Homo sapiens: one gene and its partners. The protein of the gene in region 2 interacts with the protein of the main gene of each other region in a pairwise test. Each region holds a gene or a part of one and is shown on either strand. Other genes may lie near its edges. The genes, in order: FHL2, SAP30BP, OGT and ZNF212.

Region 1 (7,032 bases), on a different chromosome or scaffold from region 2:
GGTGTTTTAGGACTTTCTAATCAAGGCCAAGATCCATGTCTTCACATCCTACATTCAGCATAACTCCAGCTTCGACTTCGGTTTCAGTAACAGAGACATCGTGGGCAGGCTCTTCTTCAGGGCCATCGCGTGAACAGCCCTCCTGTGCCCTGTTCAGGATACCTACCAACTGGAAGCCTGCCCAGGAAACCGTGCAGAGCCTAATACTCTGTTTCTGCCTCATGTATAAATGGATGATGATTTGGGGTCAGAGCTGGGAACACAAAGACAGCAATAGAAACATATCCTTTCTAAGATAAAGCTGGGCATAAAGAGATTGTTATTTTAATTTTGTGTTGGCACTTTAAAAATGCCGTATGTCATTTTTAAAAGGCAAATATGGAGGGTTCTCTTATTCCTCAGGCAAGATGAAGCCAAGTGTGGAGTCGAGTTTTCTGCGGGGCTCCTTTCTCTCCCTCATCTTTTACTCAAAAGCACACGTCTGTCTTCTCAGGGCCTCTCTCATGTGTGCTCAGTTTTTGTCTCACTTCTCCCACCCTCACGCCCCTCCACTCCCACATCCTTACCCGTCCCCCAGTCTGAGCACTTCACTCTCCTGTTGAAAAGCAGCTGTCCACTGCCTTCAGGATCAATGGAATCTCTACACAGACATAAAAGGCAAAAAGGCAGCCATATCTTCCAGTCCAGCCAGGCCGGGGGGCCCTCCCACCTCGCCCCTGGCCTGTGGTCCCTCCAATCTGACATGCCCCCCGTCCCCAGATCTTCTGTGTCTGTGCTCTTTCTCTGCCTGAAATTCCCTTCCTCCCCCAGCTCACGGCCACCCACAGAGGTAGCACCCACACACACAGTCTCTCCTGACCGTCTCCCACCAAACAGTCCTTGGGCCTCCTGTGAACATCCCGACACCCAGAGCCTCTCTGCCATGCCGGTGACCACAGTGATCTGAGTTGGGCAGGGCTCCCTCAGCCAAGGATGTCCTGCAGTCTGTTTCTCTGTCACCGGATGTGGTGTGAGACGAATTGATAGGTGTTCATGTTTTCTGTTTCTCTTTCTTGCAGGCAATACATAAGGGAAATCCCTTTGTTTTTTAGAAGCATCTCTCACACACAGACATGTGCATACATGCACATCTGTCTAACCTGTTGCTCTAAAATGCAGCAAGAGAAAAGCAGCCTAGTCTTAATTGATTTCAGCAGTTAGGTGGTCCTGGGGCATGAATGTGGGTGCGCCAGGGTGCCTCGGCCCAACTTCTTTCCTTGTTTGCCCTGCAGATTCGCAAGGGGCCCCTATGCTGTGGGTCCAAGCCCTCCTGTCCTGCCTCTGACTGTCTTGTGTGGTCTGGCCCCACAGGACTTGTCTTACAAGGACCGGCACTGGCATGAAGCCTGTTTCCACTGCTCGCAGTGCAGAAACTCACTGGTGGACAAGCCCTTTGCTGCCAAGGAGGACCAGCTGCTCTGTACAGACTGCTATTCCAACGAGTACTCATCCAAGTGCCAGGAATGCAAGAAGACCATCATGCCAGGTCAGGAGGCACTCCTTTCTCATGCGTGAGCCAGTCTAGCTTCAAGCCTTGTGCACGTTCCTCTGACCCCCTGTTCACATTGACTTGGTTCCAGACACTCGTGTTGACTTTCCAGTTTGACCTTGAACTGCAGAGGAGTATTTAGAGTACTTACGAAGCAGGGACATACAGGTTCTATCATGGGCAGTAACGGGATCTTTTTGCTGTGCACGTGGGGCAGTGTTATGCAGTCAAATTGTTAGAGTAAGAAAATGGTGGGTATCCCCCTTAAAAATACATCTCCTGCATCAGCCCCCACTCTCCCACCACCATAGATAGTTTCTCTTTTCTTCCCTTCTACCTGCTGAATTTGTACTCATTCAGTTATTTCACCAAGTGTGCATGGTGCCCTTGCGTGCCAGGCACTGGGCTCGAGCTGAGCATTCGTAGGGTGTGAGCCGAGGTGCACCTGGTCCTCTGCCCTTGTAGAGTTGGTGTTCTAGACGGACAGTCAAAAAGGGCACAGCCGCAACTGGGCCAGGTGCCGAGGATGGCAATAAAGGTGCCTTGTGTGTTGATGGGACTGTGTCCCTCATGGTTTTTTTGTGTGTGTATGTGGGGGGAGTTATTTGTTTTGTTTTGTTTTTTATGTAGGAGAGCAGAATCTTTTATTTTAAAAAGCAAAGTGGACAAAAATATGTGGAATTTCAAAATACAGAAAGAAGCTGGGTGCGGTGGCTTATACCTGTAATTCCAGTACTTTGGGAGGCTGAGGTGGGTGGATCACTTGAGGTCAGGAGTTTGAAATCGGCCTGGCCAATGTGGTTCAGTGGTGCAATCTTGACTCACTGCAACCTCTGCCTCCCAGGTTCAAGAGATTCTTCTGCCTTAGCCTCCTAAGTAGCTGAGACTACAGGCGTGCACCACCACACCTGGCTAATTTTTGTATTTTTAGTAGAGATGGGGTTTCATCATGTTGGTTTGCTTTGTTTTTGATAATAAAGAAATACTGAAGAGACTGACATATGGGAAATAGTTTAGAAATATATGTAGGATGCCAGGTGTGGTGGCTCACCCCTGTAATCCCAGCACTTTGCAAGGCTAAGGAGGGCGGATCACGAGGTCAGGAGTTTGAGACCAGCCAGGCTAACATGGTAAAACGCTGTCTCTACTAAAAATACAAAAAATTAGCCGGGCATAGTGGCGGGCGTCTGTAGTCCCAGCTACTCGGGAGGCTGAGGCAGGAGAATGGCCTGAACCCAGGAGATGGAGCTTGCAGTGAGCTGAGATCACGCCACTGCACTCCAGCCTGGGTGACAGAGTGAGACTCCGTCTCAAAAAAAAAAGAAAGTTATGTAGGATAAGGAATAATCATTTTTTAAAAAGGCAAGGAGGTAATCTGACCTTTGGTAAGATGGTTTCTTACTGCCACTACATTTCTCTGGTTAATATAACTTTAAAACAACTGTGACACACTATGACAGGGAAGAAAAATGCCCAGGCTGACACAGTCCCAGCCCTGTTGGCAGCTGTAAGGGAAAACAGCTGGAAGGGCTGCATGGTGACTTTAGATGGGGCAGCTCCAGGCAAGAAGGCCTCTTCTAAGATCATGTGGATCCTGCAGAGGCTGGAAACTCGGGCCCCAGTGCTGTGCGACAGTGCAAATGAGAATTGAAGCCCGTAGAAAGCCAGGCTGACCTGTGTCCTGCCCCACAGGGAGTCACTGCAGAGACACAACACTCAGTAACAATAAGAACCACGACATTAATTGAAAAACAAATTAAACCCTTACTAGTTTCCTGAACAAGGGCCCAAGGAAGCTTCCACTGGGGACTCTAGGGGCTGTTTAAAGACTTTAACTGTTAGCACCAACCATGACATAAAAAGTATGCATATTTCCCGGATTTTGAATTTTTCACCTGTCTTGACTTTCTGTGTTAGTCACGTTCTCCAGAGAAACAGAATCAATCAAGGAAATGTATACACATAGATACATACATAAGGAGAGAGAGAGAGAGAGAGAGAGAGAGAGATTTCAAGGGATTGGCTCATGAGATTGTGGAGGCGGTAAGTCTGGAATCTATAGAACAGGGCAGCAGGCTGGAGGCTCAGGGAAGAGATGATACTGCAGTTCCAAATGGGAGCATTTGAATTCCGTAGGGCGGCAGGCTGGAAACTCAGGCAGGGTGTGTCTATTGCAGTCTTGAGAAGAATTAGTTGCCCTTAGGGAAACCTTAGTCTTTGCCCCTAAGGCCCACTACCGATTAGATGAAGCCCGGCCCTGATACGTGGGTAACGTGCTGCACTCGAAGCTTGCTGACTTAGATGTTAGTCACATCTAAAAAACACCTTCACGGCAACAAGTAAACCTGTTTTTTGACCAAACAACTGGGTACCAGAGCCCAGCCACGCTGACACATAAAATTAACCATCACACCTTCCCTTTCTCATGGTGTTTACTGGGGAGGGAAAGAAAAGAAAAACATGATCAGATAAGAAGTAAAAACCTAATGTTCAGTGAGAGGTAACCCATACTGAATATCTGAGAATTAACTGGCCGGCAGCCTCTTCTACTAAGGAATGGGGGAAGCAAGAATTCAGGCTCTGTGGTAAGAAATGCTGTGTAGTAATAATAACAACACAGCTACAGCTTCCAGCCCCTGAGCACACACACAGGCGTCAGACCCTGCTGCTTTACAGAATCCCATTGAATCTTCGGTGTTCCCTGGGTTGGATGGCTTCATCCCCATTTTACAGGTGCCTCTGCCAGAAGAAACGGACTGGGCACCAAAGGCAGGGCGTCTAGAAGAATCCCGGTGTATGCAAAACAAACCAGCACCGACAAAACACTGAATCAAAGCACTTGCTTGCCTGGGTTTGATTTTTAAAAGTGTTAGAACCCATTCAAGATGAATATGGGTTTACAGCGTCAGTGCACAGCTTTTGCGGTGAATTTACATTTAGAGGACAAGTGAAAAACTCACCCACCAGCTCCACACCCCCCACACAAGTCAGTTTCCTGATGACCAATCAGGAAACTGGAATACCATCAGTAACCCCAGTGCTGGGGTTTACCGGCTCTCGCGCCCCTATTAGCAGACGTTGCTTACAGATGCACCACAGCCTCTGAGCAGACTCAAGTAGCGATTCTGTCTCCAACCCTGCAACCAAATTTCTGGCTCCTCATTTGACTTTTTTTTTTTTTGAGCCAGGATCTCGCTCTTTCGCTCAGGCGGGAGAGTAGTGGTACGATCACTGCTCACTGCAGCCTTGACCTCTCGGGCTCAAATGATCCTCCCACCTCAGCCTCCTACGTGTCTAGGACCTCAGGCACACACCACCACACCCGCCTAATTTTTTTTTTGGGGGGGTAGAGACAGGGACTCTCTATGTTGCCCAGGCTGGTCGCCAACTCCTGGGCTCAAGAGATCTCCCGCCTTAGCCTCCCAAAGTGCTGGGATTACAAGGCTGAGGCACCGCAGCCAGCCTCATTTGACTATTTGAATCAGATTAAGACATCCCTTCTTCAAGACTGCGCTTCCGCCTGCGGGAGACTTGGTTCAGAGTGTGCGATTCAGTTAGGAGAAGGAACGCTCCTGCCACCTGCCGGTATTGCTGCATATGACCATGCAGGCTTGCGGCCACTGCTGTCGCCATGCCTGAGGTGCACGCGCCATGTCCCTGAGGCTCCAGGTGCCCTGTGCATTCCCTGCACGTAGAGTTGCCCTCGAACTGGTGTTGATCTGATCAGACTTATTTCAGAACTCGACAAGAATGCCATGAGAGTCATAATTGCCCCATATTCATTGGCAAAATCCTTTGGCTTCTGGGCTGCTTGATCAGAATGAATGTCAGAGATCCAAAGAGCAAGTGACAAAAGTATGCATGGAGGTTGAAGAAAATCTTTGTGAATTCAAAGTCCTTCCACTATTTTTACTTGAATTTCAATTGCTTCATGTAATGTTTGTTTTAGGATTCATCACCCCACAATTGAATTCCATAGATTGTACAGCTTAGTTTTGAATTAAAAGATCGCTGCGTGTCACCATCCCAAATTCCCTCTCACACATTGCCCCCCAACACACACCCTGCTTATTTTATATAATCTCAAATGTCTGGTCTTGGAAGTACAGGAAGCTGAGAAAATGATCCTAAATAACAATCGTGATAATTCTCAGCACATTCCTAATTACTGGAGGACAGACATTTCATGACCAACTTTCTAGCCAGCTAAAATACAACCCCTAGCTTTGTCCTTGGGACCATAAGATTTTGGGGCTGAGAGCTATGGACTAGTCTATAGACTCCTATAAGCCACCTGTGTTACTGCAGCTGCTTCCACCTGGTCTGGAGCGGGGCAGTCCCTCTGTCGGCTTGATTCCCCATCATTCCCTGACCCCCAGTTGAAGTCACATGTATGTGACCCTCATGCCACAGTCCCCAGGGATTGGCAACATTTTTCCTTCAAAAATCAGATAAATATTTGGGGCTTTGTGGACCATACAGTCTCTGTCACAACTACTCAACTATTACAACTACACAACAACTGCACAACTGCACACAGCTGCACACTACTCGGCCGTCTAGCTTAAAAGCGGATGTAAACAATGGAAGTAAATTAATGGGCGTGGCTGTGTTCCAATAAAACTTCATTTGAAAAGCAGGCAGCAGTCTGGATTTGGTCTTACACAGTGGCCAGGCCCCTCAGCTAGTCCGGGCACTTACAACACTTTCCTCTTTCTTTGTCCCTGATACTTATTTCCCCAGATTGTTCTTTACCTTTGCTTTATATGAAGGGTACTTGTTTATACGCCTATCTGGAATCATCCGTTACTATAAATAGATACACTTCTTTCTGGCAAACAAAAATGAAAAAATGTCAGTCAACAGACACCGAGCACTTGCAGTGAGTCCAGCTTGGTGGTGGCAGGGGTGACCCATAAGTGTTTCAGTTCTCTAGAGCTCCTCAGTTCACTTGGAGAAATGGTAGAAATGTATCAAATGCTAATAGTTATTCAAAAGACAATGGATGGCGTAGGTTTAGGCAATTACTAAATGGGATGTACAAGTAACACATGAAGATTTCAGCCAGGCATGGTGGTGTGCACCTGTAGTTCCAGCTACTCAGGTTGAGGCAGGAGTTTCCCTGGAGCCCAGATGTTCAAGGCTGCAGTGAGCCAGGATCGCACCACTGCACTCCAGCCTGGGTGACAGAGTGAGACCCTGTCTCGAAAACAAAAAAAAACTACATGTAGGTTTTAATTATAGCACTTAGTACAGTGCATAAAACTACCTAGATACATCACAACTTGGTTCAACAGGCAGTATGTAAAGTGAGTGTTGTAGAGGCTGCTCACTGAATCAGGTTCGAGGTTCCAGGTTCATTCACACTCTAGCCATTTCCATCCTGCTGTGAACCAGACGGGGTGTTCATTATCAGGTGTGCAATAGGTGAATACAGTCCCTAGACTCCAAAAGTCATGCTCCATGGGAATTCATCGGAGCTATGCCACACTTCTCTTTATACT
Region 2 (7,300 bases):
GTACAAAACGCATTTCTGTTTGTTGTGGAAATAATTTTTTTTTTTTTTAAGATGGAGTCTGGCTCTGTTGCCCAGGCTGGAGTGCAGTGGCGTGATCTCGGCTCACTGCAACCTCCGCCTCCCGGGTTCAAGCGATTCTCCTGCCTCAGCCTCCCGAGTAGGTGGGACTACAGGTGCGTACCACCATGCCCTGCTAATTATTGTATTTTTAGTAGAGATGGGGTTTCACCATGTTGGCCAAGATGGTCTTGATCTCCTGACCTTGTGATCCGCCCACCTCAGCCTCCCAAAGTGCTGGGATTACAGGCATGAGCCACCGTGCTTGGCTGGAAAGAATTTTAATGCTAACATTTACATACCAACATGTAACAAAAATTTCAAACAAATAATATATTTTAAGTGATTTAATTAAAACTTGCTAAGCAGTCAGATTTGACATCTAGACTCAACTCTGCCTGTCTTATGCTAAGCACCAACTTCAATTTCCTTGCGTTTTCTGCAAACTTAAATTCTGGCTCATGTTGCTCAGGTGATTATGTGTCTAAAGACTTTCTTGTTAATAATAGCACAGGTTCTCCTTTCTCCAGCACCTACTGAACTTCAGGCAAGATTTGTGATCAAGAACTAAGGGCACCATTATAAAAAGTGCCAAATAAAATGTCAAGAAAGAAGTTAAGAAGGCCAGGGATGGTGGCTCATACCTGTAATCCCAGCACTTTGGGAGGGTGAGGCAGGGGAATTGCTTGAGGCCAGAAGTTTGAAACCAGACTGGGAAACATAGTGAAACAACGTCTCTACAAAAAATTTTTTTTTAAATTTTAAAAATCGGCCAGGAGCAGTGGCTCACGCCTGTAATCCCAGCACTTTGGAAGGATGAGGCGGGTGGATCACCTGAGGTCAGGAGTTAGAGACCAGAATGGCCAACATGGTGAAACCGTCTCTGTGAAAAATACAAAAATTAGCCAGGCGTGATGGCAGGTGTCTGTAATCCCAGCTACTCAGGAGGCTGAGGGCAGGAGAATTGCTTGAACCTGGGAGGTGGAGGTTGCAGTGAGCAGAGATCGCACCACTGCACTCCAGCATGGGCGACAGAGCAAGATTCCGACAAAAAAAAATAATAATAGGTTAGCTAGGCATGGTGGCGCCCACCTGTAGTCCCAGCTACTGGGTAGGCTGAGGTGGGAGGATCACTTGCGCCCAGGAGTTCAAGACTGTAGTGAACTATCTATGATCACACCACTGCACTCCAATCTGGACAGCAGAGTGAGACCCTATCTCAAAAAAAAAAAAGAAAAGAAAAAGCAGGTGAAAACGAATTTTCCTTTCTTATCTTGTTAATAAACTGAGAAGACTTAAATGAGCCCCAACCAAGATTAAAAATAATGCAGAGTTGACTGTAGATATAAATGATACACCAGTTAGGATGAATGCCTGCTATAAATGGAGTAAATCATTTAAACAGGGAAAAATCAACATAAAACACCCATTGATATCTGGGTTAAATAAAATAATCCACTATCTTTTCCCCCAAATTTCAATTCAAAGATTAATAAAAAATGATCCATGTGAAAATACATTTTCAAACAGATCTGATATCCAATCCAGTTTCTTCCACTAATACTAAAACAAAACGGGAGAGCAAGGGATGGAGCTAACCATGAAATGGAACACTGTTGGCACAGTTCCAAAATCTGACAAATGAAATTGTGCTTTCAGTAGCTCTGGATCTGGGAGATTTACCTACCGACTGTCTACTGTTCTCATCTTCTTCTTCTTCATAACCATCTTCATCACCCCCTAGACGAGAAAAGTCATCCTCCCCATAGGCATCAGATACCAATCCGCCTTTCTCCTCTGAAAGGTTAAAAAACAAACAAACAAACAAAAAGCAAGAAAAAAAAAACAAGAGTTACAATGTAAGAAAAAATGTCCAGAGATTTGAGTGGCCAAGACTATCTCTGAAGATACAAAGGGAACCTAAATCTCATGTTAAGTTACAATAGGCCCAGATTCGGCTCTCTGAGAAGGCCAGCATTTACTGAATAAAATCATTAAAAGGTCAGGGAACAAAACCGAGTACTAAATTCTGTTTCTAATGCTATAAACACTAGATAAACACTAAAGTGTTTATAGGAAACCATCAGAGAACTTTCTGACTGGAAGAGACCACACAAAATCACAAAACATGGAAGTACCTAACCTAATCCAATCCCCTTCACTTTCCAGATGAGGAAGCTAAGGTCCTGATATGTTGTTAGGTAACTTGTTCTTTATTCTCCCAAAGGAATCTGTTTCCATTATCTAACATTGTGCTTCTCAACCTGAGGAGGAGAACATCACCGTTAGGCTTTAAAAACTCACAAAATAAGAAAAATCACCTGGGATCCTTAAAAAGTTCACAAATGCCCACATCCTACCCCAGTTCTACCGAATTAGGTTCTCTCACTTTGGGCATCAGATACGTTTGTTTTTAAAAGCTCCAAGATGTGTTTAGGGCACATTCCTAACTAAAAGTTATAAAGTTAACGAACACAATCTTTACCATCTTCCACGTATGTTTTACTTATCGCTCTCCCTCATCAAACAACGAGCCCAGGGGAAACAGGCAGTGGCTGAGCAGCCGCTCCCTCTTCGTCCATCCCTCTGTCTATCACTATAGCCGGCACGGAGTCTTTCAGTAAGTTTAGGCAAATTAATCGAAATAACGGGAAGGAGATTCTTCATTCTTAGTCCACAGTCTCTAATGCTCTATCTCACCCCGGACCCTGGACCATTCTTCGGGGTCCGGTGCTTGGAGCACAATGACCATCTTGTTCCCTCCCGCCCAGCGAGGGTACAGCATTCCGGGCAGACACCCGATTCCCCCTTCCAGCTTCGCACTTGGGCCTTACCAGCCGCGCTGCCCACCGCCTCGATTCCAGCCTCGCCATCAGACTCGGGCTCTGAATCTTCCGCGTAAACTGCGAGAGACGACAGAACATTCTTCTTCCCCGCCATCTTATTCCCACAGCCCGGGCGTGGCTCACTCCTATGACTCAAGACGCCGACTTCCGGGCGGAAAGGCAGGTTCTTTCGGATCCCAGGAGACCCCCGCGCCACACTGGAAACCAATCAAAACGGCAGTTTCCTGCGCCTGGCTCCGCCCTCATGCCAGCGCTCGCGCTACGTCATCACTGCGCGACGGATATAAGATTGCGTGGGTTCTGCCTAAAGCTGAATTCCCAGCGCTTTGGCTTCTCTGAGTTGGGGTTGTGTATAGGGGTCTTCGAACAGTTCCGGAACCAGCCAGCAGCCTTTAATTCTTGGGCGGACCACGGCCGGTTCTGATATCTTAGGGTGAAGAGAGGGAGGTGTCGGCCAGCCAAGAGAGAAAATTGCGGATCTTGGGCTCAGGAAGACGGGAGAAGGGGTTCGGGGTCCCGGGGTGGAAGAACGGTCGTCGTGGTTGCGCTTATAGAAGTAGGAGCAGGTGGTGGATCTTAGGAAAACGGTTCCCCGTTCTCCAAGCTGTTCTGAAGACATTTATGTTTCTTCTCTTGATCTGATTTCTAGCTCTGTGCTATACCGTGGCCTGGAATAGTTCAATGTTTTCATTTTCATTGAGCGTAAAAGTGGAGATGTTAATTACTGAGGAATGTATTGCTTGAGGCAGTTCACCTTCAGCTTTATTACTTAAAAATAATACATTATTTAAGTGTAATATAGCAAATTGTTACAGAAAAATAATCTGTATTTTTAATGCAAAACAGAGGGTTCTCGTGGCAACCTTTTACTACCTTTGCCTTAACCTTTGGCCACTGTTCTTGGCTAAGATGAGCAGCCACCATACCACCTTTCCTTTTGACCCTGAGCGGCGAGTCCGGAGTACGCTGAAGAAGGTCTTTGGGTTTGACTCTTTTAAGACGCCTTTACAGGAGAGTGCGACCATGGCTGTAGTAAAAGGTAACATTACCAAGCTACCTTCCTTTAAATTTATGCTGGCTATACCATAACGCTGCGGCAGAACACCCTCCTCCTCACCCTTCGTACTGCCTCACCTTTGGTCCATAACTGGATTTGGAAATCTTTAGAGTTGTCAAAGCTTGTAGTTTCGTTTATTTGTTTTAATTAGAGATGGGGTCTTGGCATGTTGCTCAGGCTGGTCTCCAAATCCTGGGCTCAGGCAATCCTCCCACCTCGGCCTCCCAAGGTGCTGGGATTACAAGCATGAGCCACCACGCCCGGCCCAAAGCTTGTAGTTTTAGTGGCAGAACCACCCAGCTGGTCTATATTTCATAGCTAGATTTACACATGGTCTTTGAAAACACTTCAGATTCTCATTATTGTTCGTTTGTACACACAAACGAACAGCAACAGTGAGGGTGGTAGGAATAACTTAACTCGGTCACTGGCCTCCTAGGTAATTCCCTTGTTGCAGGTTGAGTGGCCTTGGTCCCAGATAGAGAAGGAAAGAGTAATAATGTTATAAACCTGAGATACGGTGACAAATGGAAGTTGCCAAGAGGCGAGCAGCAATGTAATATTAATGATACATGTCTAAACAAAAGCCCTCTAAGTAATGTCCTCTCATGTCTACACAGATGTACCCACTCATCTAGCAGTACTCTGCTTTCATGGCTGTTTAGTTCAATCATCCATATCACAGCAGACTCAGACTTCTTTTTTTTTTTTTTTTTTTTTGAAACAGAGTCTTGCTCTGTCGCCCACACTGGAGTGCAGTGGCGCGATCTCGGCTCACTGCAACCTCCGCCTCCTGGGTTCAAGCAATTCTCCTGCTTCAGCCTCCTGAGTAGCTGGGATTACAGGCACGTGCCACCATGCCTGGGTAATTTTTGTATTCTTAGTAGAGACAGAGTTTCACCATGTTGGCCAGGCTGGTCTCAAACTCTTGCCCTCGTGATCTGCCTGCCTTAGCCTCCCAAAGTGCTGGGATTACAGGCGTGAGCCACTGCGCTTGACCCAGACTTTTTAAATCTTGTTTTTAACCATTACTAGAAATGGTTTGGGCATGTATCCAAGTTTCCCAGGATCCTTGCCTTTTTCATAGAAAGGACAGGAGGGGAATTAGGATTACATCGAGACCCTCCCATGTGCCAGACACTCTGCTAGGTGCTTTTCCTACATTCTCATTTAATTTTCAACAACTTCAATGAAAAGGCAGGAAGCACTGAGATATTGTTGTCTTGTATTTTTTCAGGTAACAAGGACGTCTTTGTGTGCATGCCCACAGGGGCAGGAAAATCCCTATGCTATCAGCTCCCTGCTCTGTTGGCCAAAGGCATCACCATTGTAGTCTCTCCTCTCATTGCTTTGATTCAGGTGAGGCTTAGGGCAATGAAGATGGTAGCCCAAAAAGATTCGGGGAAGGTTTTTTGAGGCTGGAAATTTCACTTCTCTATTGGTCTTTTGCCTCTTATTTTCTTTTCTTTTTCTTTTTCCTTTTTTTTTTTTTTTTTTGAGACAGAGTCTTACTCTGTCGCCTAGGCTGAAGTGCGGTGGTGCGATCTTGGCTCACTGCAGCCTCCACCTCCCGGCTTCCAGCAATTCTTGTGCCTCAGCCCCCCATATAGCTGGGATTACAGGTGTATGCCACCATACCCGGCTAATTTTTGTATTTTTAGTAGAGATGAGGTTTCACCATGTTGGCCAGGCTGGTCTCAAACTCCTGACCTCAAATGATCCGCCCACCTCGGCCTCCCAAAGTGCTGGGATTACAGGTGTGAGCCACCACACCCGCCCCTGCCTCTTATTTTCTATGATTTGCCTATCTCATTCGCTATATTGGGTTTCTGTATTTCCCCAATGTAGTGTTCTCCACTGGTGCATATCACTCTGGGAGGTTATGAATGACTCCTCTGAGGTCCCTCACCCTCCTTTGTTATTTTTTTGTTCAGAGGAGTATGAAACTGTATTTGTACACACATATACACTCAGTCTCATGTATACACACACGTGCACTCGTGATGTTGAGACAGAAGTTGCAGATGGATAGATAGCTAAGTTGATATGGGGAATCCCTGGTGTCCTGCTTATTTTGGTAAGGGCACAGTATGTGAAACAGAAAAAAAGATGAGAAACTGTCTGGGACCTTATTAACATCTGCTCTACAGGTGTTCTGACTATTTAAGGCCTGCAGATGGGCTGATAGAATCAGAATTGAGGAAGTGTGGCTGTGTGGGTAAGAGCCATCCACCATGAAGGAAGGTAGAGAGGGAACTACAGTAATAACTTGGTGAATGTTCACCAGGTCCCAGGCTTCGTGCTAAGTGCTTTACATACATTAATTTCTTTCTTTCTTTTTTTTTTTTTTTTTTTGAGATGGAGTTTCGCTCTTGTTGCCCGGGCTTGAGTGCAATGGCGTGTTCTCGGCTCACCGCAACCTCCGCCTCCCGGGTTCAAGCAGTTCTCCTGCCTCAGTCCCCCGAGTAGCTGGGATTACAGGCATGCGCCACCATGCCTGGCTAATTTTGTATTTTTAGTAGAGACAGGGTTTCACCATATTGGTCAGTCTGATCTCGAACTCCTGACCTCAGGTGATCTGCCCGCCTCAGCCTCTCAAAGCGCTGGAATTACAGGTGTGAGCCACCGCGCCCGGCTTACATACGTTAATTTCACCTCTCAGATGTAAATTTTAAGTTATACAACAATGCTATTAGATAGAATTGTATAAATCGTTCAGAGGGTAAGAAACAGCCAGCGAGCATGTGGCGATTAAGTGAGCCAGGATGAAATCTAAATCTGAAGTCTGTCTGACTTCAGAGCCTGTGCTCTAAACCACTTCACCTTCCATAGAGATTGAGCATCCCTAAAGCAAAAATCTGAAATCTGAAATGCTCCAAAATCCAAAAAATTTTAGTGCTGACGTGATTCCACAAGTGGAAAGTTCCACACCTTTCTGACCTCATGTGATGGGTTGCGGTCAAAACTCAGCCAAAACTGTTTTTTCATGCACAAAATTATTATTATTATTTTTAATATATATTTTTTATTATACTTTAAGTTCTAGGTACATGTGCACAACGTCATGTCAAAATTATTAAAAATATATAAAATTACATCTAGGCTATATGTATAAGGTATACGTGAAAGAAAAAATGAATTTCATGTTCAGACTTGGGTCTCATCTTTAAGAGATCTCATTATGTATATGCAATCTGCAAATATTCCTAAATCCAGGAATATCTGAAATCTAGAACACTTTTGGTCCCAAGCATTTGATAAAGGATATTCAACCTCTACTACTTCTATGCAAAGAGAATATATATTGGAGGGTGGGAGGAGGACAGTTTATGACTGGGAA
Region 3 (5,321 bases), on a different chromosome or scaffold from region 2:
TTTTTTTTTTTTGAGATGACATCTCACTCTGTTGTCCAGGCTGGAATGCAATGGCACGATCTCAGCTCACTGCAACCTCTGCCTCCCGGGTTCAAGCGATTCTCCTGTCTCAGCCTCGCATGTAGTTGGGATTACAAGCGTGTGCCACCACTCCCGGCTAGTTTTTTTGTATTTTTAGTAGAGACAGGGTTTCACCATGTTAGCCAGGCTGGTCTTGAACTCCTGACCTCAAGTGATCCACCTGCCTCCGCCTCCCAAAGTGCTGGGGTTACAGGCGTGAGCCACCACACAAGGCCACTTTGCCTTCTTAATGGATCATAAACTAACCCCACCCTCTACCAGACCTGGCTGAGAAAACAATTCCTAATATCATAGCTACAGTAGGGAAATTTGGTCCTTTCATGCTGTTTGGAGGTGTTTAAATATAGGTTTCATCATTGGATGACACTATTCTTCAGTCCAACACTCAATATAACAGGATACAAAATACATCAGCCGTATTAAAGGGAAATCATTCATTTATTAAGGATCGCAAGACAACATCTTAATTTCTGTAGTACGATTTAAATGTTTTACTTCTTTGATAAAGCAGAGTACAATAGAAAAAAAACAATTAGTTTCCAGTAATATCTATATCTCTAATCAGAATTAAGTCTTCCAAGACATATTACCTGGAAATAAAAGCCTGTTACAATAAGCAAAGCTTCAACCAGAGCGGCTACTTTTCGTGCCAGGAAAAAGTTCATCCCTATAGGAGGAATGATGTGCTATGTAAAATGGCTGTAAGGTCACAGCCTTGAGGGCATTGGAAGTATATTATCCTATTCCACATTAAGTATTTCAGCGAATTTCAAACATCAGTTTATCTGCAACCATGCTGGCAACCTTTAACTGATATTTCAATCAACCGGTAAAAAATAAATTAAGAAATCCCTTCACGGATATTCCGTGATTTACACTGTTAAAAGGTACACTGTTCATTAACATGTAATTCTGGTTCAGAATTACCTTTGAGACTCCTTGCTCAAAATTTGGTTAACAGTAAGAATCTTCCAGAAATTCAAGTTCTTATTAATCAATAATTTGTCAGCTAGGATACATTCAGGCATCAGCTGCAACTACAGAATAGGTGCACAGCCTCAGCGCTTTGGAAAGACATAATCTAGAACACTACTAGCAGACAAAAAATTACCTGCAACTGGATAGCGTAAGTGCAGTATAGCGAGACAAAACATATATTCATATGTTGGCTTGTTTAAGCCTCAAACCCTCGACCCTTTGTTGAGATCCCATAATTTTATTCCTATGATTTTAATAACTCAAGTTCCAGGAGGACTATAAGTCTAATTTGTACTCCAAACCAAACAGCAGTGCAGTTCGCTACTACTGAGGCTGAATCTGTACAGACTTCAAGACCAAGTCCAGAAGACAGTTATTATCTAAAAAATAATTACTTGAATACATAGATGATCCTTCAGAGATTTTACCTATAACCTATTTCTTGATGAAGGTTATTTAATGCACTGGAGATAACTGTGACTTACTGATCAAATACTTGAATACTTATACTTACCTGGGATTTCATTTCTGCTGAAAGAAATAGGAAGAACAGGACTCACTTAAAAAAAAAAAAAAAAAACTTTAGAAAGGAAGGTAAAAATCTTACACACACTATCACTTTTGGAAGCAGCATAGAAGGGGCAGTCAAGGGTAAAACACTGGTGAAACAGGTCAAAATTAGGAAAAAAAAAAAAACTATATTATTATCAATGACAGTACCACAACTGTGCCCTTGATAATTAGTAATCACTCCTAAAAATCTTCATTTGGCACCAGATGGTGTGTTTAAAACACCCTAGGATGTTTTGAATCAGGCTTGATTTTGTTAGTTGAGTTACAGGAGAATTTTAAGGGTGAGGGTATGGGGGTCAGGGAAGAAAAGGAAATGGGAAATGGACCAGAAAAAATCTTGAGTCATCATCTAAATCAACAAAGCACTGATAGCTCCAAATATTAGGTCAGACACTAAAACGACTGATATAGGCTCAAGTGGTTTATAAAACCTATAAAAAGACTACACCAGCAAAGTCCCTGTCAATCTGTCAGAGTTCAGAAACTAAAACAGGGAGTAACATTTTAGCTTAAAACCTTATCTCAAGAGAATCATATACACTTCACATGAATAAAAATACCTGAAACCAAACATTTTTAAAAGCTCCAGTACCCAAAATATAAAGAAAAAAAAATCCAGAAGACTGAATCAATCCATGGAATCACAAAGCGGCCGGACAATCTATATCTCCCCTCCACACTAACCATCCCATGGAAGACCAAGGGAGATCAGACCTTCCAGACCTATGCACCATCTGGTCGCCGCAAAATTCTACGGAGATTCCTTGTGGAAAAGCAGTTTCCCATCTTTTGTGTCTCTCCCTACCATGCAGGAAGCAAGTCTGGCTGTGCTATTCTATTACCATTATATATCACCCATCTGCAACAAGGTACTGTACAGACAAGTAAGAAGTATGTTATCTAGTTCCCTTTCCCCCAGAAGGTTGAGGCTCAGGTATAGGGGTAATTCTCCTGTGCAGTCTTTATTTATGCTGACTCAGTGACTTCAACAGGCTTAATCATGTGGTCAGGTTTGTTGCCAGCTGCATAATGCTCCCACATCTGTAGATAGAGCCGCTCTAGTTCCATTGTGTATTGTTTGGTGTTGAACAGAGGGCTAGATATTCTTTGCTTCCAGACTTTGCCACGAACTTTCTTCAGGCTGGGTAATAAAAAACAAGAACCCAGTTTACAAATCAGAGCAGAAACTCAGAAACACACCCTATAAATACCTAGTCGCATTTGTGGCAAAAAATGCATGACCAAACTCTACGCTATCTCATTTCTTGATTGGCTTCGTGCTAAAAAGGGAAGGGTCACATCTTGCATAATGCTAACACTGAAATGAGCTCAACTCCATATACTCTGAAAAAACTTAGTTCTTTCCTAAACAAGTATATCCAAGGGATACCACGCGTTCTCCATTTCGTCTTGTTTCTACCTTTAAAATAACAAGAATTGACAACGGCACATGACTATTCCTATGTACTGTTGCTTACCTTTTTGGTAAGCAATTTAGCAAGTATGTATTAACCTTAAATGTTCATAACCCTCTGGCCTAACAGTAACACTTTAAAATCTATTAAAAAGAAATAATCAGATGCAAAAACATACAGGACCATGCAAAGATATTCATTGAAGCATCATTTACAAAAGTTAAAGCATAAACATAAGATGAAGTATTCGATTTATGGTCATTTTGATGAAACAGAAAACCACTCAAGGGGAAAAGAAATACAATAAGTCTACTCTCGTAATTTTCCACTTGTACCTGAACTGAGTTCAGATTTTTAAAAATTGCTAATATCACCAAGAGTATGGTTCTGTTCAGAAAAATAAAAAAGAAGTAATTGATTCTTCAGGAAACACAGGGGAAAAGATTTCTACTTCCCTTTTGAATATATTTTTCATGAGATTATTCTTAGATGAAGGGATAAATACTTTAGAACCAGAAGCCAGAACATTTCTGTGCATTTTTAAAAGCAATAATTTTTATTTATTTTCTTTTAATTTTTGAAATAGAGTCTCACTCTGTTGCCCAGGCTGGAGTGCAATGGAACGATGATGGCTCACTGCAGACTGAACCTCCTTAGCTCAAGCAATCCTCCTGCCCCAGCCTCCCGGGAAGCTGAGACTACAGGCACGCATCACCACACTCAGCTATTTTTGTATTTTTTGTAGAGATGGGGTCTCGCCATGTTGTCCAGGCTGGTCTCGAACTCCTGGGCTCAAGCAATCCTCCTCCCTCAGCCTCTTAAAGCGCCGGGATTATAGGCATGCGCCACCACGCCCAACTTTGTTTTAATGTTTGTTGTGACAGAAGCAGTAAAATGGTTGTGCATATCTGTTGGTCTCAATACAACCATGTCCATATTAATGCTACCCTCCAAAGAGAAAGACCTGTGCACTCTATTTTTTTAAAATTCTATGCCAATAGGAAAATAAACTGTAGTGCATTCATACAGTGAAATACTACTCAGCAAAAGAAATAAACTTGATGAAAGAAGCCTTTAGAGTGCATATTGACATAGTTCCATTTGGATAAAATTCTAGAAAAGCAAAACTAATTTATGGAAGGGAAAAAAACCCTCCAGAACAGTGGTTGTCTCTGGGGGTTGGTGAAAAAGACTGACTGATAAGGAGCATGAAGAAACTCTCTGGAGTGATAATGTTTTTTGTCTTCATAGGAATTTGGGTTACAAAGGTATTTCTCGGTTGGGCACTGTGGCTCACACCTGTAATCCCAGCACTTTGGGAGGCCGAGGCAGGTGGATCACAAGGTCAGGAGATCAAGACCATCCTGGCTAACACGGTGAAACCCCATCTCTACTAAAAATATGAAAAATTAGCCGGGTGTGGTGGTACGTGCCTGTAGTCCCAGCTACTCAAGAGGCTGAGGCAGGAGAATCGCTTGAACCCAGGAGGCAGAGGCTGCAGTGAGCCAAGATCACACCACTGCACTCCAACTTGGGCGACAGAGCAAGACTCCGTTTCAAAACGAAAAAAAAAAGGGTTATTTCTCAAAACTCACTGAATATTTGTGTATTTCACTGTATATAACTTCCGCCTCAAAAGAAAAAAATGGCCAGGCGCAGTGGCTCACGCCTGTAATCCCAACACTTCAGGAGGCCAAGGCAGGTGGATCACTTGAGGTCAGGAGTTTGAGACCAGCCTGGGCAACCTGCCAAAACCCTGCCTCTACTAAAAATACAAAAATTAGCTAGGTGTGGTGGCTCATGCTTGTATTTCCAGCTATTCAGGAGTTTGAGGGGAAGACTGCTTGAGCCCGGGAGGCGGAAGTTGCAGTGAGCGGAGATCGTATCACTGTACTCCAGCCTGGGAAACAGAGGGAGACCCTACCTCAAAAAAATATATGTGTACTGAACTCCAGTTAATGACAGCCAATCTTAAGTATTTAAGGAGAAGTGTACTGATGTCTGCAATTTATTTCAAAATGTGTCCAATAAGATGGATTGGCAGATGAATAAAGGGAATAAATGGATGAATAGATATGTAATAAAGCAAGAATAGTAAAATGCTAATGGTAGATTCTAAGCAGTAGGTATAGATGTGTTTATTATAAAATTAAAAATTTTGAGAACAAAAATGTTGAGGAAAAGCATTGTATGAACCAAACTAAGTACCAAAGAGTCTAATAAAAATTTTAAAATGCACCACAGGCTGGGTGCAGTGTCTCACGCGCCTGTAAT
Region 4 (6,488 bases), on a different chromosome or scaffold from region 2:
ACCCCTGCCTTACAGCAAGCCAAGTTTCCTTCTACTTATTTGCTCGCTCTCCCCGTGGAAAACTGTAATGTCTTTTAACGGGTCTCCTTTGGTCCCAAGTGTTCTTACAAAATGTTTTGTGTACATGCATTTTTAATTTATATAAATGGTGTTACATTATAGATCTCAATTTCTTACCTTTTCCCCTCGGCATTGTGTTTAAGATGGATCCAGATGGCTACGCATATATCTAAGCCAATGCTCGTAACAGCTACCTGGCACTCCCTGGGGTACCCACATTTCACCTACTCTTTCTACCTCCCAATAGCCATCACCCAGACTGTCTCCAGCTCTCCACCATCATAAGTACAGTCCCCTGAAAATTTTCACCCATGCCACATCTTGTCTTCTGTCCTAGGTTTAAGTAAAAGTGCAGGTTAGGCTGTGCCATCAGTCCTTCCCTGTCATCACTCCAGGTCAGGTGCCTCTCCTCCACCTTGGCCCCAGGAGAGTGTTCTTGACAAACGGAGAAAAACATCCAGTATGAACTTTTTTTTTTTCTTTTGCTAGTAGCAAGTTTTATTCTAAGCAACCGCAAATCATCCAAGGGGATGTTCACATATGACCCCAGAGCCCACTCCCATCCCCCCAGACAGCAGCGGGGCACACATTCAACACTCCTGAGACAAGCCATCTGTGTGCTTTTTCTGTACCCTCTCTGGAATAGGCAATCCCAGAATGCATTTGGAAACTGTAATCCGAACCACCTCAAGTAAGGATTGGTGTAATAGGAACAAACTCAAATAACCACTGGTACAAGGTGAACAACCTTAAGTAACAAAGTAGTTTTCTACTCTGGGAGGCTGCAGAACATAGCCAGGAGGAGGTGGGAAGAGGAGAGGGGTATGCCGAGACACCGCAAGTCCCAGACCACAGCCATACCATCAGCAACTTCACTGGAATCTTTCTTCTCAACAGGGCTGCAGGGTCTACCCCTCCGACTCTTTTCCTCTTGGTCCTTTTGAGACAATTTGAGAGCACCAGGCACTGCACGAGGGAACCTAGCACCGTGTCCCCTGCTCTCCGGCCTAAGTAAGCATCAGTGGGCTAAAAGAGCCCCATTAACAACTCCCTCCTAGAGGGTAGGTCCAGTCCCCAAGTTAGGAACAACTTCTACAACTCTTAAAATGTAAAAAACAAGTGTTGGGCTGTATTCTTTAAAAAATCAACTAAAATCTAATTCCAAAAAAGGTTCTTCAGAGCAGGGCTAAGCAGTTCATTTAAATTATTTCTTCTACTTATTATTAAACAAAGAGATTATAAAACAAGAAAAAATGGAGGGTTATACTTCCCAGAACTCTTCCAGGCAGCTGCTCACCCCTATGGCCCGACTCAACCCCGTGGGAAGACATGAAATGCCGGGACGAGCCCTGGAACCAGCCACCAGTCCCTGTGGGGTCAGAACGCCAACCCCAGCCCACAAGCATTGGCATGAATGAGAAAACCAGAGACCTGAAGGTGCCAAGAAACAGCAAACTTGGCAGCAGGATGAAGACCTGGCCTGGACTCTTCTTCCACAGGGTTTTCAGGACAGCCTTTGGGCTTGGCTTGGTACTGGGACAAGGGAAGGCAATCACAAACAACTGCCCTCAGGAAGAACTCAGTCCCTGACTGCAGTGTCTCTTCGGGGGAACCAATGCCACCCCCCTCCATCCCCCAGACGGGCGAGGGGCTGCACCCTTAAAGCAGGCCATTGGGCCTTCCGGGCTCCAGGGCCAGCCCACCCCGCTCCCGCTGGTGGATCTTCTGGTGCTGCAGGAGGTGCTGCTTCTGGACAAAGCTCTTCTCACACTCAGTGCAGCTGTAGGGCCGCTCACCCGTGTGGATGCGCTGGTGCCGCACCAAGTCAGATGGGTGACTGAAGCTCTTGCCACAGTAACCACAGATGAGGGAACTCCGGCTTTTCCTCCAAGGGATGTGGCCAGGCAGGGCAACCAGGCTGTTGGGTGAGAACCTCTCTTGGACATGCTGGCCGGCACTGGGCCCCTCCTGCAGGTGGCAACGCTGATGGGTCACCAGGCTCACCTTGCAGCTGAAGCTCCTCAGGCACACATCACACTGATGCAGCTTGGCCTTTTTGGTCTGTGGTTTCAGCCGTGGCCTGGGCCTAAGGCTCTCCTCTGGCTCCTCAGGTGTACAAGACCCCCACCCAGAGTGGCTGCGCAGATGTGTGGCCAGCTGCTGCTTATAGCGGAAGGTGATCTCACACTCAGAACATTCGTAGGGGCGGGAAGTGTCCTTTTTCAGCTTCAGGCCCTGCCCACATTCCTGGTCCAGCTGTACCTGCCTATGAGATTTCTGCTTCGGGCAGCCCACAGTTCTGCTGCTGCTAGGAACTCTACTACCAACAGGCTCCTCTAGAGTAGAGTCCCCAGGACCTGTTTCCAAGAGGACAGAACTGCCCTGACCACCCCAGAGTTCGGTCTGCTCTGGGCTCAGGAAAGCCTGCTCTTCAGCAATGCATGAGAACTCTCCAGGAAGATCCGCAGGGCCTTCCTGTGTATACTGTAGCTCCTGTTTGATCATGACCCCACCTGCTGCAAAGTGGAAGAAGACCAACAAAAAAGATCACATTCTAGTACCTTTGGTTTCTTCAGGACCAAACAAACATCTGTGAATTTCAGAAGCACCCCAGGAATAAGTGAATTAGGATAACGTGGAGGAGGATGACACTGGCTAGGTTCCAAGACTTCTATAAAACTATATTCATGTACAGTTTTTCCAATGTTGATTGGAAATATAAATGTATTACTCTTATAAAACAATACTGTAAATGATAGTTCTCCAAGCTTGTCTACAAATTTATATTTAATCCCTGTGAAAAATGACAGAATACACTGTAACAACTATACTCAATTAAGAGTGTTAAAATAACAAATTTGAATGATTAAAGACAAACTAAACCTACAGCTTAAGAATTCATGTCCAGCTCTGTTCTTCCTCCATAACCTCCCAAATTACCTACTGACAAGTGCTTTTCCTGCACTGCCTTCCCTCCTGAAGCTCTGACATACCTACGCTCAATCTCCAGCAGGTTTTGACTACCGCCTCGTACGGTACTCTATTCTGTAGGGCATGAAGAATAATGATTGATGTGGCCGTTAGTCTTAAAGACCCCACAGGGTGGTAGGAGTTGAGGCATATGTAACAGCTGAACTAACGACAATCATAAAGGAGTCCAGAACAAGCAGATGCCAGATGAGGTCACCAAGTCAGCACCTGGCACTTCAGCCGTGGGAAAGCTCACTCTAGGCTACAGAGGGCTATGGAAGGGGAACAGAATATTCCAGAGCCACTCACCTGGGTGGGCACCACCAGGACCTTCCTCTTCCAAGTCACCCAGCATCTCTGTACCCAACTCCGCTTCTCCCTCTGTCTGGCCAAGGACCTCTGGGTGGGAAACAGCACAGTGTGAGCCCAGGAGAGAGTGAAAGCTCACTGCACACTGATCAGCTGCCAGTGACCAAGATGACCAATGGCAGGGAGGAAATATAGATTCAAAGGCTACTGTTCTTGTCAGTTTCCCCTAGCAGTTTGGGACAATTATAAAATTCTGGCCAATCATAACAACTGACTTGGCTAGCTGCTGCCTCCAGTGCTCCTCCATTAGAGGGGCTGTGGCTCAGGCAGGCAGGCTACAGAGCTACCACTGCCCTTGATGGCACCACCACCCACCTCTGCCTCTCCATGTGCGTGCAGCTTAAGTCTTGCCAATGCTTCCTTTCAGGGGATCTAATTTCATCCTTGCTAAGGCACTGCAAGGTAAGATGGGCACTGGGACAGACAAGGAAACAGTCACAATGAGAGCATGTGACCCAACCAAGCTTACAAGGTCACTTTTCTGGCCCATTTTCTATTTCCTTTACCTCCTACTCTGCTCCAGGCACTTGACACTCCTCCATGTACCTAGGTTTTAAAAGACTTTGTCTACCAAACAAAACACATTTATTATGTAATAGGTAACATTTTGCATATAAAGACTTATATCTATTAAGCAGCACTCCTAATCAACAAGAAAAAATCACTGAGACCACAATGACCAGCTATAATTCCGGCCAAACACCAAGAAAATGCTTTTGATCAGCCTGTGCTGCCTGCCTCATCCAAGGTAACATAGGGTTATCAAATCATCTTTTTTTTTTTTTTTTTTTTTTAAGCAACAGAGATCTCACTATGTCGACCAGGCTGATTTCGAACTCCTAGCCTCAAGCTATCCTCCCACCTTGGCCTCCCAAAGTGTTGGGATTACAGATGTGAGCTACCACACCCATCTCAAATAGTCTTAAATATTAAAAACAGCATGAGAGGCCAGGTGCGGAGGCTCACGCCTGTAATCCCTGCACTTTGGGAGGCCGACGTGGGTGGATCACTTGAGCCCAGAAGTTCAAGACCAGCCTGGGCAACACAGTAAGACCCACGTCTCTACAAAAAATTTAAAAAATTAGCCAGGCGCAGTGGCATGTGCCTGTAATCCCAGCTACTCGGAAAACTGAGGTGGGAGAATCATTTGAGCCCAAGCTGTCAAGGCTGCAGTGAGCCGAGATCGTACCACTGCACTCCAGCCTAGGTGACAGAGTCTCAAAAAAAAAAAAAAAAAAAAAAAAGATAAAACAGGCCAGACGCAGTGGCTCACACCTGTAATCCTAGCACTTTGGGGGGCTGAGGTGGGCAGATCACGAGGTCAGGAGTTCAAGACCAGCTTGGCCAACATGGTGAAACCCCATTTCTACTAAAAATACAAAAATTAGCTGGGCGTGGTGGCAGTCACCTGTAATTTCAGCTACTCGAGAGGCTGAGGCAGGAGAATCGCTTGAACCTGTGAGGCAGAGGTTGCAGTGAGCCAAGATTGTGCCACTGCACTCCAGCCTGGGCAATAGAGCAAGACTCTGTCTCAAAGAAAAAAAGAAAAAAAAAAGATAAAATAAATTAAAAAACAACATGAGGAACCCTAGCCATATCACACTATAGGGTATATGACATTTTATTTATTAGAAAATACTATCAAGAACAGACTATGTGACCACAGGAAAAAAAAAAAAAAAACACAAAAGGCACAATGCTGCGAGCTTTCCAAAAGTCTCTGTAAATGGGAGGACCTAGAGACTGGCATTTCTCCACCCGTGCAGGTCTGTAAATGGGAGGACCTAGAGACTGGCATTTCTCTGCCCGTGCAGGCCGACAGAGGACCCACAGCCACAGGAGCCACAGGTGTGGTCTGAATTACAGGCTGCCAGCCAGGAATTGTAGTATGTCTGAGACAGAATTCTAGGGAGAAAACTGCTACTCACTCAGAGAGACCAGTGTCTCATAGTTACTCTCCATCACGTTTCTGTAGAGCTCCTTCTGCCAATCCTCCAGATTCTCCCATTCCTGCTCGGTGAAACAGACGCCATCATTCTCCAGTGACCTGGACACCTGGAATCACCAATGGCACACCATGAGTGCTTCTACTCACAGCTATGACAGAAAAGCCAGCAACTGAGGTGCTTACATATTAAAGGGCTGGCTCCCCCTTCTCTTCTAACTTTTAATCCTCAATGAGACTACCTTGGGGGCCTCCCCCTTGCTGCCCGGGGGCAGCCGCAGGATCCAGAAGTTCCTGTTGCGCAGCAGGTTCTCCACGTTCTCCAGCCGCCTCTGCAGTAGCCCATACTCCTGCAGCAGGGTCCCCAGCACGGCCCACTTGCCCTCCAGCTGGTTCCCGAACTCCACGGCCATCTTCTCGCAGTCAGCCAGCTTCTTCTCGGCTGTCCCCGTGCGCCCCTCCAGGCTCTGTAGCCGGGCAGCCTGGGACTCCATCTTCTTCTCCACAGCCTGAATAGCGGCCACCACCGTCCAGAGTGAAATCTCGGTGGTCTGAAAATAGGAGCTTTTCTCTGTTGCTTGTGAAGGAAGTGTGGAAGAAGTTAAAGGTGTGGAGCGTCGTTTTCTCCTGTGCTGATGGATTAAAGACACAGGGTCAATGTCACTTCCAAACATCAAGTAAAGAAAGCAGTGTTCAAGTGTATCAGTGCTCAGAGTTATCTAGTTTCTTTTAATTAAAAAAAAGCATGTCTTTTATTGATACTAAAAATTATACATAGATATTGTATTAATAATGTTGGAAAATGATGAAGAATAGAAAGAAAATATTACACAAAATCTTCTCACACACAATAAGCTGTTAGGGCTGGCCGTGGTGGCTCACAACTGTAATCCCAGCACTTTGGGAGGCCAAGGCAGCTGAATCACTTTAGCTCAGGAGTTTGACACCAGCCTGGCCAACAAGGCAAACCCTGTCTCTACAAAAAAGTTCAAAAAATTAGCCAGGCATGGTGATGCATGCCTGTAGTCCCAGGTACTTGGGGCACTGAGGTGGGAGGACGGTTTGAGCCCAGGAGGTTGAGGCTACAGTGAGCCAAGATCGTGCCAGTGCACTCCAGCCTGAGTAACAGAGTGAGACCCTGTCT

Evidence for each region.
Region 1: the proteins of SAP30BP (region 2) and FHL2 interact in a two-hybrid assay, tested with the Homo sapiens proteins (one study listed by BioGRID and IntAct).
Region 3: the proteins of SAP30BP (region 2) and OGT interact in binary tests that used the Homo sapiens proteins (3 or more experiments, as listed by UniProt).
Region 4: the proteins of SAP30BP (region 2) and ZNF212 interact in a two-hybrid assay, tested with the Homo sapiens proteins (one study listed by BioGRID and IntAct).

Annotation. Positions count from the first base shown.
Region 1 is NC_000002.12:105,368,052-105,375,083, reverse strand, and holds part of FHL2 (four and a half LIM domains protein 2), read left to right. Parts: intron 1-1,350; coding exon 1,351-1,525; intron 1,526-7,032. UniProt on the Homo sapiens protein: May function as a molecular transmitter linking various signaling pathways to transcriptional regulation. Negatively regulates the transcriptional repressor E4F1 and may function in cell growth.
Region 2 is NC_000017.11:75,663,070-75,670,369, reverse strand, and holds the start of SAP30BP (SAP30-binding protein), read right to left. Parts: upstream 3,033-7,300; 5' UTR 2,998-3,032; coding exon 2,892-2,997; intron 1,855-2,891; coding exon 1,745-1,854; intron 1-1,744. Other genes in the region: RECQL5 (ATP-dependent DNA helicase Q5), read left to right, coding at 3,813-3,942, 5,198-5,319. UniProt on the Homo sapiens protein: Plays a role in transcriptional repression by promoting histone deacetylase activity, leading to deacetylation of histone H3.
Region 3 is NC_000023.11:71,571,072-71,576,392, reverse strand, and holds the end of OGT (UDP-N-acetylglucosamine--peptide N-acetylglucosaminyltransferase 110 kDa subunit), read right to left. Parts: intron 2,774-5,321; coding exon 2,599-2,773; 3' UTR 501-2,598; downstream 1-500. UniProt on the Homo sapiens protein: Catalyzes the transfer of a single N-acetylglucosamine from UDP-GlcNAc to a serine or threonine residue in cytoplasmic and nuclear proteins resulting in their modification with a beta-linked N-acetylglucosamine (O-GlcNAc).
Region 4 is NC_000007.14:149,249,647-149,256,134, reverse strand, and holds the end of ZNF212 (zinc finger protein 212), read right to left. Parts: intron 5,977-6,488; coding exon 5,587-5,976; intron 5,455-5,586; coding exon 5,328-5,454; intron 3,430-5,327; coding exon 3,340-3,429; intron 2,577-3,339; coding exon 1,720-2,576; 3' UTR 529-1,719; downstream 1-528.